Linked DNA regions of Homo sapiens: region 2 is linked to region 1. The links come from fine-mapping of genetic effects on gene expression. Tissue or cell type: whole blood. Region 1 holds a variant in brackets; the other region holds the start of a gene. All regions are shown on one strand. Distances are between the middles of the regions.

What was found. PIP is the estimated chance that this variant, and not a neighbour inherited with it, causes the effect.
Region 2: it holds the start of RYR1, and the variant in region 1 is fine-mapped to the expression of RYR1 in whole blood (TOPMed, PIP 0.94).

What each region holds. Positions count from the first base shown.
Region 1 is chr19:38,542,571-38,550,671 of GRCh38, reverse strand. It overlaps RYR1 (ryanodine receptor 1), which reads right to left. Exons shown (of 106, transcript NM_000540.3): 85 at 7,237-7,325; 86 at 7,012-7,140; 87 at 6,797-6,901; 88 at 4,146-4,227; 89 at 2,252-2,439. Among named protein-coding and RNA genes, the nearest start is that of MAP4K1-AS1, 50 kb to the left of the region's middle. RefSeq lists enhancers at 5,980-6,069, 6,420-6,479. The variant T/G (reference allele first, on the strand shown) is at 4,896.
Region 2 is chr19:38,430,626-38,438,726 of GRCh38, reverse strand. It overlaps RYR1 (ryanodine receptor 1), which reads right to left and starts at 5,036. Exons shown (of 106, transcript NM_000540.3): 1 at 4,853-5,036. The coding sequence starts at 4,897. RefSeq lists an enhancer at 3,707-4,282 and a silencer at 5,014-5,153.

The DNA of each region.
Region 1 (8,101 bases):
AGGTGCAGTGACTCACACCTGTAATCCCAGCACTTTGGGTGGCTGAGGCAGGAGGATCGCCTGAGCCCAGGGGGTCAAGGATGCAGTGAGCTAGGATTGTTTGACTGCACTCCAGCCGGGGCAATAGAGCAAGACTCTGACTCTAAAAACAAATAAATAAGAAAATAAACAGTAATGGGATGAAACCACATGTGCCTCCTAATACATTACACTGAGGACACATCACTTCTCTGATATTCCTGCAAAAGATGCATAACCCTAGTCTGATAATGATGAAAACTCAGACAAACCCACACTGAACGACATTTTACAAAACAGTTTGCCTGCGTTCTTCAAACATGTCAGGAAAGATAAAGACAGACCCAGGCACAGTTCCAGACTGAAGGAGGAAAACAGACAGAACACCTAAATACAATCCCTGGTTCTGGGTTGGCAAAGAAAAGACATTGACGAAAGAAATTTATTCAACAAGGGAAACTGAATAAGGTCTAGGATTAGATAGCAGCATTGTGCCAATGTTAATTTCCTGATTAGCATAATTGTCCTGTGCTTAGGTAGGAGAATGAATTTGTTCTCAGGAGATACACGCTGAAGTGTTTCAAAGTAAAGGGAAATTGGCTAGGCGAGGTGGTTCATGCTTGTAATCCCAGCACTTTGGGAGGCCGAGGCAGGCAGATCACTTGAGGCCAGGAGTTCAAGACCAGCCTGGCCAACATGGTGAAATCCCATCTCTACTAAAAATACAACACACACACACACACACACACACACACACACACACACACACACACACACAAATTTAGCTGGGCATGGTGGTGCGTGCCTGTAATCCCAGCTACTCAGGAGGCTGAGGCAGGAGAATCGCTTGAACCCAGGAGGCGGAGGTTGCACTGAGCTGAGATTGCACCACTGCACTCCAGCCTGGGCAACAAGAGCAAAACTCCGTCTCAAAAAAAAAAAAAAAAAAAAAAAAGGAAAGGAAAGGGAAATCATGATGGAGTAAATAGTAAATAGAAAACATTTGGGCAATGTGGGTGAAAGGTATTCAGAAATTCTATGTGCTGTTCTTGCAACGTCTCTATAAACCTGAAGTTATTTCAAAATAAAAAGTTAACAAAATGGTAACATTAAAGATCAGGGAGTAGTAATAGCAGCTAACATCTCTTGAGGACTCACCATATTCCAGGTACTGCCCGCACTGCCCATCCTCACAATAGTTAATAGTTGTTTTATTTTTATTTTTATAGATACAGGGTTTCACTAGGTTGCCCAGGCTGATCTCGAACTCTTGGGCTCAAGCGATCCTCCCACCTCGGCCTCCCAAATTGCTGGGATTATAGGCATGAACCACCGCACACTGCCAATAGTTAGTGGTTAATGTGATTATCCTATCCCCATTTTACAGAGTAGGAAACTGAGGCTCAGAAGAAAAGATGGAGAGTTAGGATGGGAGAGGTGGTTAGAGGAGGAGGAGTGGGTTTCTGAATAAGGATGTTCCAGCACTTCCCTCCTAGCAGGCTCATTATTTAGACTTGGAATGGTCTAGTTAGTGACTGCCTCCCCCATTAGACTATAAACCCATGAAAGCACGGGCTGTGTCTATCTTGGTCATTGATGCGTCAATAGTGTCACTACAGGCCCTACACAGAGAAGAAAGCCAGCCAATGTTTATTGATGGAATAACTGATGCCTATTCACAATAATGATAATGTTATGACTATCAATAAAGATAACAGTAATAACGGTTCTCATCTGTGTTAATGCATTTCATCCTCAAAATAACCCAAGGGGGCTGAGCGAGGTGGCTCATGCCTATAATCCCAGCACTTTGGGAGGCCAAGGTAGGAGAATTGTTGGAGCCCAAGAGTTCAAGAGGAGCCTGGGTAATGTAGTGAGACCACATCTCTACAAAAAATAAACTTAAAAATTAGCCAGGCATGATGTCACACACCCGTCGTCCCAACTACTCAGGAGGCTGAGGTGGGAGGATTGCTTAAGCCAGGAGGTCAAGGCTGCAGTGAGCTATGATCACGCCACTGCACTCCAGCCTGGGCAACAGAGAAAGACCTTGTCTCTAAAATGAAATAAAACAGAATACATATAACCCAAGGACTGTTTTATCCTCATTTTACAAACAAGGAAAGTGAGGCTTGCAGAGATGTCTCTTGCCTGAGGCAGCCAGCCAGAAGGGTATGGCTGGCCCTTGGCAACCCCACCCAAGTCCTGGGCCCACACGATGTCCCACACCCACCTTCTGGAAGTCCTTCTTGGAGATGAGGCCACGGGGATCCGTTACGTAGTCCTGGAAGGCTTCAGAGCCCACAATGTCCTTGAGTTTCAGGAACATGTCGAAGAACTTGAGGATCATCTCCACATTGGATGAGGATTCCACGAGCATGTCCACCATCTGCCGGGCGATCATGCCGTTCACCACGTTCCCTGCAGGCAGCCCCAGGTCAGTGTGGCCGGTGAACACTCCCTTCTGGGGCCCCACCAGGCTTGCCTCTCTTTCCAGCCCAGGAGCCACCACGCTGCTGGAGTGTCCCTGGCCAGCCACAGCCTCCCCTCCACAGGTCCCTTCCTGACCTGCGTCAGCCTCCTGTGCCAACCTGGCTGATCCTGCCTTTGCCCACCTCCCCCAGTAAAGCTAATGATGTCAGGTCGGACGTGGTGGCTCACGCCTGTAATCCCAGCACTTTGGGAGACCGAGGTGGGTGGATCACTTGAGGCCAGGAGTTTGAGACCAGCCTGGCCAACATGGTGAAACCCCGTCTCTATTAAAAATACAAAATCAGCTGGGCGTGGTGGCATGTGCTTGTATTTCCAGCTACTTGGGAGGCTGAGGCACGAGAATTGCTTGAACCTGGGAGGCGGAGGTTGCAGAGCCGAGATCGTGCCACTGCACTCCAGCCTGGGTGATGGAGTGAGACTCTGTCTCAAAAAAAAAAAAAAAGATAATGATGATGTACGCTAAAGGTAGGTGCCAAATGCTACCCTGGCACAATCACACAAAAAGGGAAGTGTGTGACTCTACTTTTAGGAAGAGAAACTGAGACATAGAGAAAGTCATGCACTCAAAGTTACATAGCCAGTAAAGTGGGGAGAATGGATTTGAACTCAGAGCTGCATGACCTCAGGGCTTACACAACTAAAACTTCCACCAGTACACACAGTCAGGAGGGTCCACAGAAGACTGAGGCTAGCCAGTGGTAAGCAGCAAGGAGAGGTAGAGATTGGCAAACTGCGATCCCACACTCCCTCTAAAGGCAGCAGCTGAAGCTTGGCTCCAGTTTATTTTTGTAATTTTTAAATTTTAATGTAGGCTGGGCGCAGTGGCTCAAGTCTGTAATCCCAGCACTTTGGGAGGCTGAGGCGGGAGGATCACGAAGTCAGGAGATCCAGACCATCCTGACCAACATGGTGAAACCCCGTCTCTACTAAAAATACAAAAAAAAAAAAAAAAAAATTAGCCAGGTGTGGTGGCGGGCGCCTGTAGTCCCAGCTACCGGGGAGGCCAAGCAGGAGAATGGCGTGAACCTGGGAGGCGGAGCTTGCAGTGAGCCGAGATCGCGCCACCGCACCTCCAGCCTGAGCGGCAGAGCGAGACTCCGTCTCAGAAAAGAAAAAAAAAAAAAAGGGATCCTAATATATCCACATTCATCAATTGTTTATCTTTTGCCACATTTGGACATTTGGTTTGTTTTTGGGGTTTGTTTTTTTGAGACAGGGTCTTGCTCTGTCACCCAGGCTGGAGTGCAGTGGTGTGATCACAGCTCACTGCAGCCTGGACCTCCCGGGCTCTGGTGATCCTCCCACCTCAGCCTCCCGAGTAGCTGGGTCTACAGGCACACACCACCACACTAGGCTAATTTTTGTATTTTTAGTAGAGACAGGGTCTCACCATGTTGCCCAGGCTGGTCTCAAACTCCTGACTTCAGGTGATCTTCCCACCTCGGCCTCCCAAAGTGCTGGGATTACAGGTGTAGCCACCGCATCTGGCCTATTATGGCTTCTTCATCAACCCATGGATCCTGACACGATGTCAGATGGGGTTGAGGATTAGGGTCTCCCGGGTCTCAGGGGGCCATTCTCAGGCTTCTCTGAACCTCTTTACTGTTCCCTCACCCTCACTCCTGGGTGTTTACCTTCTAGTAGCGACAGCAACATCACCACCATGTCCTTCTGCAGATCCAGCAGCTCCTTCAGCAGCTCGATCTGGCTTGAGTCCTAGAGATCCCAGCTCGGTGAGGGCTGGTCTCAGCATACACCTCCCCCACCTCTGTTGCTTCTCCCCCTCCTCACCTACCCAGCAGGGCCTAAACCCGTTTTCTCCCCTCTTACCTCCGAGGGGACCCGAGTCCAGACATGTTCCTCGGAAGCAGGGGAAGGGGCAGAGAGACAAGATTGTGGGGGTGGGGTTGGCACTTGGGGGACGGGCTCGATAGGTGATGGGTAGTGGGAAGGCTGGCAGACAAGGAGGACTGAGAGGCTTGCGGGGCAGACATTTGGGGCAGAGAGAGACAGAGACAGACAGAGACAAACACTGGGGACAGAGACCCAGGTCTAGGAAGGGATGTGAGCCCAGCACTGTGCCTGGCCTACGGTGGGATTGACAGATGTATGTTGAATATAATGTGTGATGGCAAGAGTGGGACTCTGGGTTCAGGAGGAAGGCTGCAGAGACAGCCATGTGCTTTCTGGTAAGCCGTCTGCGGGGAACATAGGGCCACAGTGTAGGGCCCATAGAAACCTCCAATACAAAGTTTTGCCTCATGGCCCCTATTTATGTTAGGTTGAGTCACATAAAATTGCCAACATGTGATCACTTTTGGCTCACAAAGTGGTAATTTCTTTCTTTTTGAGACAGAGTTTTGCTCTTGTTGCCCAGGCCGGAA[T/G]GTAATGGCGCAATCTCGGCTCACTGCAACTTCTGCCTCCCAGGTTCAAGCAATTCCCCTGCCTAAGCCTCTCGAGTAGCTGGATTACAGGCATGCGCCACCATACCCAGCTAATTTTTTACTTTTAACAGAGATGGGGTTTCTCCATGTTGGTGAGGCTGGTCTCGAACTCCTGACCTCAGGTGATCTGCCCGCCTAGGGCTCCCAGAGTGCTGGGATTACAGGTATGAGCCACCGTGCCAGATCCAAAGTGGTAATTTCATATGGTTCCACCAAATAAAATGGAGAGGGGAGGAGATGATACCAGATAAATGGGATGTAAGGATCTTTTGCTCCCATGCTAGTTCTATCAGTTGTTGATTCCAATCCTAATGTATTTCCACAGTTCCAAAGCTCTGCATTCTGCGCCTAAGGTCCCGACACTCCTAATCTCAAGATCTTACAGTGGGTGGGCGCCTGTGGTTTGTGCCTACCCATGATTCAGTCCCCCTCCTCTCTTTACAATCCCTCAATTTTCACCTGCGGAGTCCCCCATCCCACAGTCAGAGCACATGGGGCTAACCCTACCTCCTGGTTCTATAGGTGGGTATATGACCGGGCCTGGTCAGTCAAAGCTTTCTTTCCTAAGCCTATGATGATTGGTTCAGGGAGGGACATGTGACCCAATAGGCTAGTCAGAGAGAATCTCAGGTTTTTTTTTTTCTTGGAGCTTTCAGGAAAGAGGAGATCTCTTCCCTCTAGGGCTGTTAAGAAGTAGAGTGGATAGGAGCCTGAGGCACCATTTTTTCCAGCCCAGGGAGACAGCCTGCTTGCAAATGCAGTCAAAGAGGAGGCAGTTCTGCTGACATCACTCTAAGCCCTGGATCTGTAATATGAACTGATAAATTCTTTATTTTTCTTAAGCCACCACTTTGCACTGGATTTCTAGCTTTTGCAACCTAGACTAGATGGTGGCGGATGAATTAGCCCTGCAGGATTTGGAATTCTACATGATGATACCAACACTCTCTAGAATTTTAGGATACCAACAGCACAACTTCAGCTGCTGTGACACGGAGGAATTGCATTCTAAGTTTAACTCCTTTTAAAAAGTCAGATGACAACGAATTAGGGTTTCTGCCAGCCCCTGGGGCACCTTTGAGCAAATTAGAAAAAAAGGCGTCCCCTAAAACACTTCCTGTAGGGAAGTTATAACATGCTGGATGCTTTACTGCCATCTGCTGGAAAACTAAACTATTGTAATAAATACACCATTATGTGTAGGATGTGAATGCTCTCAGAGATCGTGCCTTTGTGCAGTGCACGACCTGCGGAACAGTATATGGCAGCCTTGAATATAGTTACCAGACAGAAGCAGAGCAAATGGATTAAGTGTTCGTGAGACATTGGCAAGGCTGCAAAGGGGTGAGGGAAAGAGGAACAAGGATTATGGAAATGGAAGGTGGTGCTCAACAGGGACCTTACATCATGAATGCCTGATATGGGTGTCATCTGCCGCAAGTAAGATAAAGAAGCAAAACATTTCCTCAGCCCCAGGCTCTAATCTAGAAACCAGCCCCATCCTAGCCCAAGGACTGTCCACATCTGCGATGACTCATCAGAGAGAAAAACAGCAATCAATCATAGAGGAGCTCCGGCCATTGGGACGGGGCCAACACGTCAGACCAATGGAAGCGTGGATGGAAAACCAGCTGATTGGTGGGGAGGGAGGGGCAGAGGAGGAGGCGGGGTCATGCAGACAGCCAATCCAGAAAGAGGATGGATTTGGCCACTGAGAGGGAACCAGTCTGGAACATGCCGGGAGCACTCGGGTGACAAACTGACCAAAGGGGCAAGACTTGGAAATGGACCACTTGGGGGACGCCCGGAAGCAGGTGGATGGAGACCAGAGGGGCTCGAACCTGAGCGAGCTTCATCATCATGTGGGCGAACACGTGCAGGAATCCCACCACTGCGTCCCATAGGCGACTGTGCGCCAGGCTCTGCTGGTTCCCGGTGCAGGGACCCTGGGAGGCAGAGTGCCGTGTGGGGGGGAAGGGAATCCCCGAGAAGGGATCAGGGATCACGATGCGGGACCCCCTCCCTTCCCACTCCCGCCCCAGGGGGAGCGCCCTACCTGGATGTACTCAGTGAGGCTGTTGAACACCTGCTTAGCCACCGACATGGCTTTGGAGAAGTTCCTCTTGCCCTGCTCTTCAATGACATCCTTGCCCGAGTAGTACCAGTAGAAGTCGCTGATGGATTCCTGGTGGGGGCGGGTAGGGTGTGAGGGGGTGCTGGGGCCGACCATGGCCCTGCAGCCCCCGACCCAAGTCACACCTGAACCGTCTCACGTCCTCACCTGCAGCCGCAGGAGGTAGTCCACAGTGCAAATGATGATGTTAATAGTGGTCGTGTTCCCTGTCTGTGTCCGTAGGTAGTTCTGGAAATCTGGGGAGATGAAAAGTCATTTATCCAGCACCTCCCATGTGCTAGGGGAGATGAACAGTGGGTCATTTATTCATTTATGCAATACTCATGTGTTGAGTTCCTATTGTATGCCAGAAAGCATATCATCATCAATTTATTTAATAACTATCAAGTACTTACTATGTGACAGAGAAAGATGGATGATCATTTATTCATTTGTCTAAAAATACTGGCCGGGTGGCTCACGCCTGTAATTCCAGCACTTTGGGAGGCCCAGGCAGGCAGATCACCTGAGGTCAGGAGTTTGAGACCAGCCTGACCAACATGGTGAAACCCCGTCTCTACTAAAAATACAAAAATTAGCTGGGTGTGGTGGTGGGCACCTGCAATCCTAACTACTTGGGAGGCTGAGGCAGGAGAATCGCTTCAACCCCGGAGGCAGAGGTTGCAGTGAGTGGAGATCTCACCATTGCAGTCCAGCCTGGGCAACAAGATGGAAACCCCGTCTCAAAAATAAATAAATAAATAAATAAATAATTTTAAAATAGGCTGGGAGCGGTGGCTCACACCTGTAATCCCAGCACTTTGGGAGGCCCAGGTGGGTGGATCACTTGAGGTCAGGAGTTTGAGACCAGCCTGGCCAACATGGTGAAATCCCGTCTCTACTAAAAAAAATACAAAATTAGCCAGGTGTGGTGGCATGTGCCTGTAATCCCAGCTACCTGGGAGGCTGAGGCAGGAGAATTGCTTGAACCCGGAAGGCAGAGGTTGCAGTGAGCCTAGATCATGCCACTGCA
Region 2 (8,101 bases), 110 kb after region 1:
GAATGGTGTGAACCTGGGAGGCGGAGCTTGTAGTGAGCCGAGATCGCACCACTGAACTCGAGCCTGGGTGACAGAGCGAGACTCCATCTCAAAAAAAAAAAAAAAAAAAAGACTAGCCTGGGCAATATACATAATGAGACCCCCATCTCTACAAAAGTTAAAAATTAAAAATTAGCCGAGCATGGTGGTATGTTCCTGTAGTCCCTGCTACTCGGGAGGCTGAGGTGGGAGGACTGCCAAGCCTGGGAAATCGAGGCTGCAGTGAGTCATAATCAAGCCCCACCTCCCTGGGGCCCCTGAGACAGATTGAGACCATGTCTCAAAAGGAAAAAAAAAAAATCACGGCCCTCAGGGAGCTTAAATCCTCATGGTGGAGACAGGGAATAAACAGGTGAATTAATATGTAATGTTAATGTCAGTGATAGGTGTTATAGAAAAAATAACCCAGGCTGATGTAAGAGAGTGGCTTTTAGGATGGGGATGAGATCAGTGAGGGAGTGAAGTGACAGCCTCTCCAAGGAGGTGACATTTGAGTTGAGCCTTGTCCAAATAACAAGAAGGAATCAGGCCTGCTCATCTCTGGGGTAAGAGGAGGGAGTCTGGGTGCTGGGGTGTTGAGGGACAGCACAGGAGATGGAGCAGGATGGTGGCCGCAAGGAGGAGGGGCAAACAGGGAGGAGATGAGGTCAGAGAGATACTTGCATGGGCCCCTTGAAAAATAACTTTTTTTTTTTTTTTAAGAGACTGGGTCTCACTCTGTCTCCTGGGGTGGAGTGCAGTGGTACGATCATAGCTCACTGCAGCCTTGGACTCCTAGGCTGAGTGATCCTCTCCATTCAGCCTCCTGAGAAGCTATGACTGCAGGCTCATGCCACCACACCCAGCTAATTTAAGATATATATATTTTTGTAGACACAGGGTCTTGCTCTGTTGCCCAGACTGGAGTGCAGTGGCGAGATCACAGCTCACTGCAGCTTCCGACTCCTGGTTTCAAGTGATCTTCCCACCTCAGCCTCCCAAGTAGCTGGTACTACAGGTGCACACTGCCACGCCCAGCTAAAGTTTAACATTTTTTGTAAAGACAAGGTCTCCCTATGTTGCCCAGGCTGTTTTTGAACTCCCGGCCTCAAGCAATCGTCCTGCTTCAGCCTCCCAAAGCGAAGGGATTACAGGTGTGAGCCATGGGGTCTGGCTATTGTATATAATCTTGTCCCCATTTTCCAGATGAGAACACTGAGGCTCAGAGAGAAAAATAAAAATCACTTGCCCCAAATTAGGAAGCAGGCAAATGGCAAAGCCAGAGTGCAAAGCAGCGACAGAGAGCCCAATCATTACCACATTGATTCTCAAACTTTTCCTGAATTAGAATGAAGGCAGGCTGGGCGAGGTGGCTCATTCCTGTAATCCCAGCACTTTGGGAGGCCAAGGTGGGCGCATCACTTGAGGTCAGGAGTTCGAGACCAGCCTGGCCAACATGGTGAAACCCCATCTCTATTAAAAGTACAAAAATTAGCCGGGCGTAGTGGTGCATGCCTGTAATCCCAGCTACTCGGGAGGCTGAGACAGGAGAATCGCTTGAACCCAGGAGGCGGAGGTTGCAGTGAGCCGAGATTGTGCCATTGCACTCCAGCCTGGGCTACAAAGGAAGACTCCATCTTAAAAAAAAAAGAAAAAGAAAAAAAAAATGAAGGAAGCGGAGGGTTCTGGTTAAAAATATAGCTTCCCTGCTGGCCCAGTCCCCTACCACCATCAAGAGCCTGATTTGGGGTCAGCAGGGAATACGTACTGTTTACCAGACCCCAGGAGCTTCTAACTTGGGCCAGGGTTTGAGAAACCCCAGCCTGGGTAAGGGTAGAGGTCACCACCCACCAAAGGGAAGTGAAATCAGTTTGGGGGGGCTGTGGCCATCATACTTAACCAAACGAAGCAAAATGGAGCAAGAATAGAAAATCACAGCGTGCCCATCATGCTTCAGGGGCCATCTACATTTTATGAGACTTGTTTCAGTTAAAAATAGGTACAAGTGAATGGTCACAGGCCCTGTGTTGTCTATAATAGTAAAAATTGGAGACGACTCAAATGTCCATCAGCAGGTGAACTGATAAACACACCACAGTATAGTCGCACAATGGAATAATATTCGGCAACAAAAAGCAACAAACTCAATACATGCTACATGGATGAATGTCAAAAATATTATGCTGAGTGAAAGAAGAAAGGCCGGGCATGGTGGCTTATGCCTGTAATCCCAAAACTTTGGGAGGCCAAGGCCGGAGGATTTCTTGAGCCCAGGAGTTTGACACCAGCCTGGGCAATATAGTGAGACCTCACCTCTACAAAAAATTTTACAAATTAGCCAAGCATGGTGCTATGCACGTGTAGTCCCAGCTACTCAGGAGGCTGAGGTGGGAGGATCACTGGAGCCTGGGAAGTGGAGGTTGCGTTGAACCAACCACCAAACTGCTGTACTCCAGCCTGGGCAACAGATTGAGACTCTGTCTCAAAAAGAAAAAAAAAGGCCGGGCGTGGTGGCTCACACCTGTAATCCCAGCACCTTGGGAGGCCAAGATGGGTGGATCATCTGAGGTCAGGAGTTCAAGACCAGCCTGGCCAACATGGTGAAACCCCATCTCTACTAAAAATACAAAAAATTAGCTCGGCTTGGTGGCACGCGCCTGTAATCCCAGCTACTCAGGAGGCTGAGGCAGAAGAATCGCTTGAACCCAGGAGGCAGAGGTTGCAGTGAGCTGCGATCACGCCATTGCACTCCAGTCTGGGCAACAAGAGTGAAACTCCATCTCAAAAAAATAAATAAATAAACAAAAACAAAACAACTCATTGAACACATAAACTGGGTAAAATTTATTGCAGGTCAATTATACCTCAATAAAGTTGGTTTTTAGTCATGTCTATGCATGTGTGCATGTACTGAGTTGTAAGACAGAATGTTTCTTATGGGCGGGATGTGGTCCAGAAGGTTTTTTGTTCTGAGATGGAGTCTCGCCCTGTCGCCCAGGCTGGAGTGTGCAGTGGCGCAATCTCGGCTCACTGCAACCTCTGCCTCCCAGGTTCAAGCAATCCTCCCACTTCAGCCTCCCGAGTAGCTAAGATTACAGGCATGCACCACCACGCCTGGCTAATATTTTTTTGTATTTTTAGTAGAGACGGGGTTTCACCATGTTGGCCAGGCTGGTCTCAAACTCCTGACCTCAAGTGATCCGCTCACCTTGGCCTCCCAAAGTGCTGAGATTACAGGCATGAGCCACTGAGCCCAGCCTCCAGAAAGTTTTGAGAAATCCACCACGACCTCAGTAACAATCAGAAAAACTGACCCAGTCTGGGGTGGAGAGATTCCAGGGCCAAGCCTCCAGAACCCTAACGCTGACTACTTTGGCAAGTCTGGGCCCAGATTTTCTCTGGTGAAGGCAATGGGGCTGGGCACCAGGGGCATCCAGAGATGCCACTTCCTGGCCTTGACCTTGGGTGAGTGATTCTACCATTCGGGCCTTGGTTTCCCTCAAATCTGTCAGGGAGATAAAGATAGGACCCTACCTCAGAAGACAGGGCAGCAAGGATATAATTAGATGTCTCAGGAGGCAGAGGCCCAGGGCACAGGGCCTGGTTTAGAGCGACAGCTCAAGAGCCAGTGGCCATGGCCATGGTCTTATTAGGGCTGGGGAGGGCCCGACCCATGGTGTCTGCTGAGGGGCTGGGGCTGGGGAGAGAGTCTCGGCTGAAGCTAGGCCCCTTCCCAGCTGTCCCCATCCTTCACTACCAGCCCCAGCTGTTTGTTCCTCTCTCCCAGGAAACCGGACCCGGCTCGCCAGGGTCCTATTCTGGGGCAGGAATGCTGTGTCAGCATTTCCTGTGTGGCTCCAGGGCCCCGGGGGGAGGGGCGGGGCTAGCGTCTGGTCAGCAGACCTAGCCCAGAGGAGAGGACGTCCCCTCCCATATTTACGACCCCACACCCTGCGGAGCCACTGGGAGGGGAAGATGGGAAGGACAAGGAGATGGCAGCCCCTCCTCCCTCTCATCCCCTCCCCATCCCCTGCCCAGGCCCCAGAAAAGCCGGCTATTCTGGGAGGGACACCTGTTGTTCCAATTCCCATCCCTGCCCCCAGCTGGGGCTCAGATGCAGGGAGTAACCCAGCTAGAGAGACAGCGAAAATCAGAGGGCCTTAAGCTAAGAAACAGAGACAGGGAGACTGAGATGGAGGAAGAGACAGAGACATGGAGACACCCAAAGAGACAGATGGGGAGAGACACCACCCAGAGACCCTGCAAGACCATTAGCAGCCATTGGGAGCAGCCCTCCTGCCCAAAACGAAGAAGGAAAGAAAGACCCAGAACCCAAGAGATCCCTCCCCCACAAGACCCTCAAGGGCTAGGAGTTGGAAGCAGCTGTGTCCTCCAGCTCACTCCAGCTCCCTTCTCAAGAATTTAAATAGGTCAGAGTCTGGAGCAAAAAGAGAATTAGGGCTAAGGTGGGGGTGGGGGGATGGCTAAATCAAGCCCAGGAATTAGAACCACCTTCCCCAAGTGCCTGCTTCCAAGATGGTGTGAGGGTGTGCTCCCTCGGGGGTCCTTCTTGTGGGGGACAAATCGCTAAAGTCAGAAGAGAGGGCAACCGAAGATCCCTTTCCCATTCTGGAGTCCCCAATCCTACTAATTCTCTGTAGTGAGAAAGGTGAAGGAGACTAAAAGACAGAGTGACAGTCACTCAAAGTGACATAGGAAGAGACCTCGAGTCTCAGAGACCACCAGCAAGCCGGACAGGGACATTCAGAGACAGAGAGACCCTCAGAGAGCCCCAAGAGATAGCCCCACAGGCCCCTAACCCAGAGATACGCACCGTCCGCAGGAACTGGACCTCGTCTTCGCCTTCTGCGTCACCCATGATGTCGAGGTCGGAAGCCCAGGGTCTGAGGTCGGGGAACAGAGGGAGGGGGCTGCGGGCTGGGCGGGAGGGCTGGGGGCGGGCTGGGGTCGGAGACCTCTGGAGACACCAGAGGCACCCGCGAGGTAGATGGAACTGCGAGGAGTACACGCATGCTGGACAGAGATGGGAGGAAGTCCCCGCCCCCGGGCCCCATTGGACCAGGACTCCCCGGCCACTCCCCTTCGCCGGAGCCCTGCCCACATACCCCAAATCTTGGCTGGAGGTTTGCTTGGCCGTTGGCCGCCGGAGGTGGGGTGGGAGAGAGAGTATCTAGGAGGTACCTGCGCTTTCTCCCCACCACGGTAAGTAACGTGCCATCATTCTCCCATTTCACAGAGGGCAGACTGAGGCTCTGAGTGGGGAAGTTCTTGCAAGATATCACGCAGCAGAGCAGGGATGTGCACCAGATCTCCTGACTTTAAAAAGCACCAAACATAGTGATTAAGAACAAGGACTCCGGCCGGGAGTGGTGGCTCACCCCTGTAATCTCAGCACTTTGGGACGCCGAGGTGGGTGGATCACTTGAGGTCAGGAGTTCGAGGCCAGCCTGGCCAACATGGTGAAACCCCCGTCTCTACTAAAAGTACAAAAATTAGCCAGGCGTGGTGACACATGCTTGTAATCCCAGCCACTTGGGAAACTGAGGCAGGAGAATTGCTTGAACTCCTTGAATTCGGGAGGCAGAAGCTGCAGTGAGCCGAGATTGAGCCACTGCACTCCAGCCTGGGCGAGACTTCGTCTGAAAAAAAAAAAAAAAAGAACAAGGACTCCGACTCCAAGCCAGATAATCTGGATCTGAATCCCACCCAGCCTTGCCACTTCCTTGAGTTACATGGATAAGCCACTTAGCTTCTCTGTGCCTCGGTTTCCCCATCCAGTAAGGGGAATATTAATAGTACCGACCTCACGTGGTTGTTGGGAGAGTTAAATGAGATAATTAATTAAATGAGATAAAACTTAAAACAGTGCCAGTGCCTGGTTAATGTAATGTAAGTGTTGCTATTATTATTATTTATTTATTTATTTATTTATTTTGAGACGGACTCTTGCTCTTGTTGCCCAGACTGGAGTGCAGTGGCAAGATCTTGACTCACTGCAACCTCCACCTCCCAGGTTCAAACGATTCTCCTCCTCAGCCTCCTGAGTAGCTGGGATTACAGGCACCTGCCAACACACCCGGCTAATTTTTGTATTTTTGGTAGAGACGGGGTTTCACCATGTTGGCCAGGCTGGTCTCGAACTCCTGACCTCATGATTCGCCCACCTCAGCCTCCCAAAGTGCTGGGATTACAGGTGTAAACCACCACGTCCAGCCCTATTAAAATTATTACTAGGCCAGACACAGTGGCTCATGCCTGTAATCCCAGCACGTTGGGAGGCCAAGGCAGACAGATCACTTGAAGCCAGGAATTTGAGACCAGCTTGGTCAACATGGTGAAACTCTGACTCTACTAAAAACACAGAAATTAGCTGGGCATGGTGTCACACGACTCTAATCCCAGCTACTTGGGAGGCTGAGGAACAAGAATCATTTAAGCCCAGGAGGCAGAGGTTGTAGTGAGCCGAGATTGTACCACTACACTCCAGCCCAGGTGACAGAGCAAGGCTCCACCTCAAAAAAAAAAAAAAAAATTTTTTTTATTAACATGTAGTGGTATACAGTAAGTTATATAAAACAATATCCCATAGTTAAACAAAATTACATAGAAACCGTTCTTCAAGGTATAGCAGGTTTCTAGGTGTTCCATAATTAAATACTGATGTTAACACAACTGCAATAAATAGCACAAAAGTTTGTGTCATATTATGGAATTATATAATTTGGCATTATATAATGTATAATTATATAATTATATATTTAGGCTAATATAATTATACAGTACAATACAATTCTATGTTGTATCTGTTATACATTATCCAACGCATAGTTGTATATTAAATATTGTTTTTCCCTAAAACTTTATGTAAATGTAAAATGATTCTGTGTCATTGAGCATTATATCATAAGATATTAATAGTGTTTCTTATTTTTGTCAGTCATCATTATGTGTTTTAAGACCTACCCTTGTTGCTCTGTGGACACCTGGTGTGTGACAGTGGTGGCTTTGCAGGATTCTCTGGTGACTGATCCCTTCTGTTTTTCCACCTACCCCTACTGGGAGCGGACACCCAGGCTGCCTCCAGCTCTCCCGAAATAATGCTGGAGGGAACATCTGTGTATTGGTCCCCCAGGAAGCTGAGGGAGAATGTTTTATTGTGCGTACCCAGAAGCTAATTGCTGGGTGACATATCCATGCGCACCATTTGTGTAAGTAGTGCTGGGTAGCCCTCGGAATGGCTACTCACTACCAGTGCATGAGGGTCCCCGGGTCCCCATATCCCCAACCCTCATGTGGCATTTCCAACTTAACTAATTTTTGCCAGATTTATATAGGGTGACTCACTGTTTTTTAATTTATTTTCTCTATTTTATTTTTAGAGATGAGATCTCACTTTGTTGCCCAGGCTGGGGTGCAGTGGCGCAATTATGGTTCACTGCTGCCCGGAACTCCTGGGCTCAAGGGATCCTCCCACCTCAACCTCCCGAGCAGCTGGGACAACAGGCTTGTGCCACCACGCCCAACTAACTTTTAAATTTTTTATAGAGGTGGGGTCTTACTATATTGCCCAGGCTGGTATTGAACTGCTGGTCTCAAGTGATCCTCCTACCTCAGCTTCCCAAAGTGTTAGGATTACAGGCAAGAGCCACCGCGCCTGGACTCGCTGTCATTTTAATTTCCACTTCCCTGATGAGTTACCAACAATTTCTAGCATCTTCTCAAGTGCCTATCAGAGTTTTGGGTTTCTTTGTTATCTGCTCATTGTGATCCCTGCTCACTTTTTTTTGTTTTTTTTTTTTGAGACAGAGTCTTGCTCTGTCGCCCAGGCTGGAGTTCAGTGGCACCATCTCGGCTCACTGCAACCTCCGCCTCCTGGGTTCAAGCAATTCTCCTGCCTCAGCACCCCCAGGACTACAGGCGCATACTGCCACACCTGGCTAATTTCTTTTGTATTTTAGTAGAGATCGGGTTTCACTGTGTTGCCCAGGCTGGTCTCGAACTCCTGAGCTCAGCCAATCCGCCTGCCTTGGCCTCCCAAAGTGCTAGGATTGCAGGCGTGAGC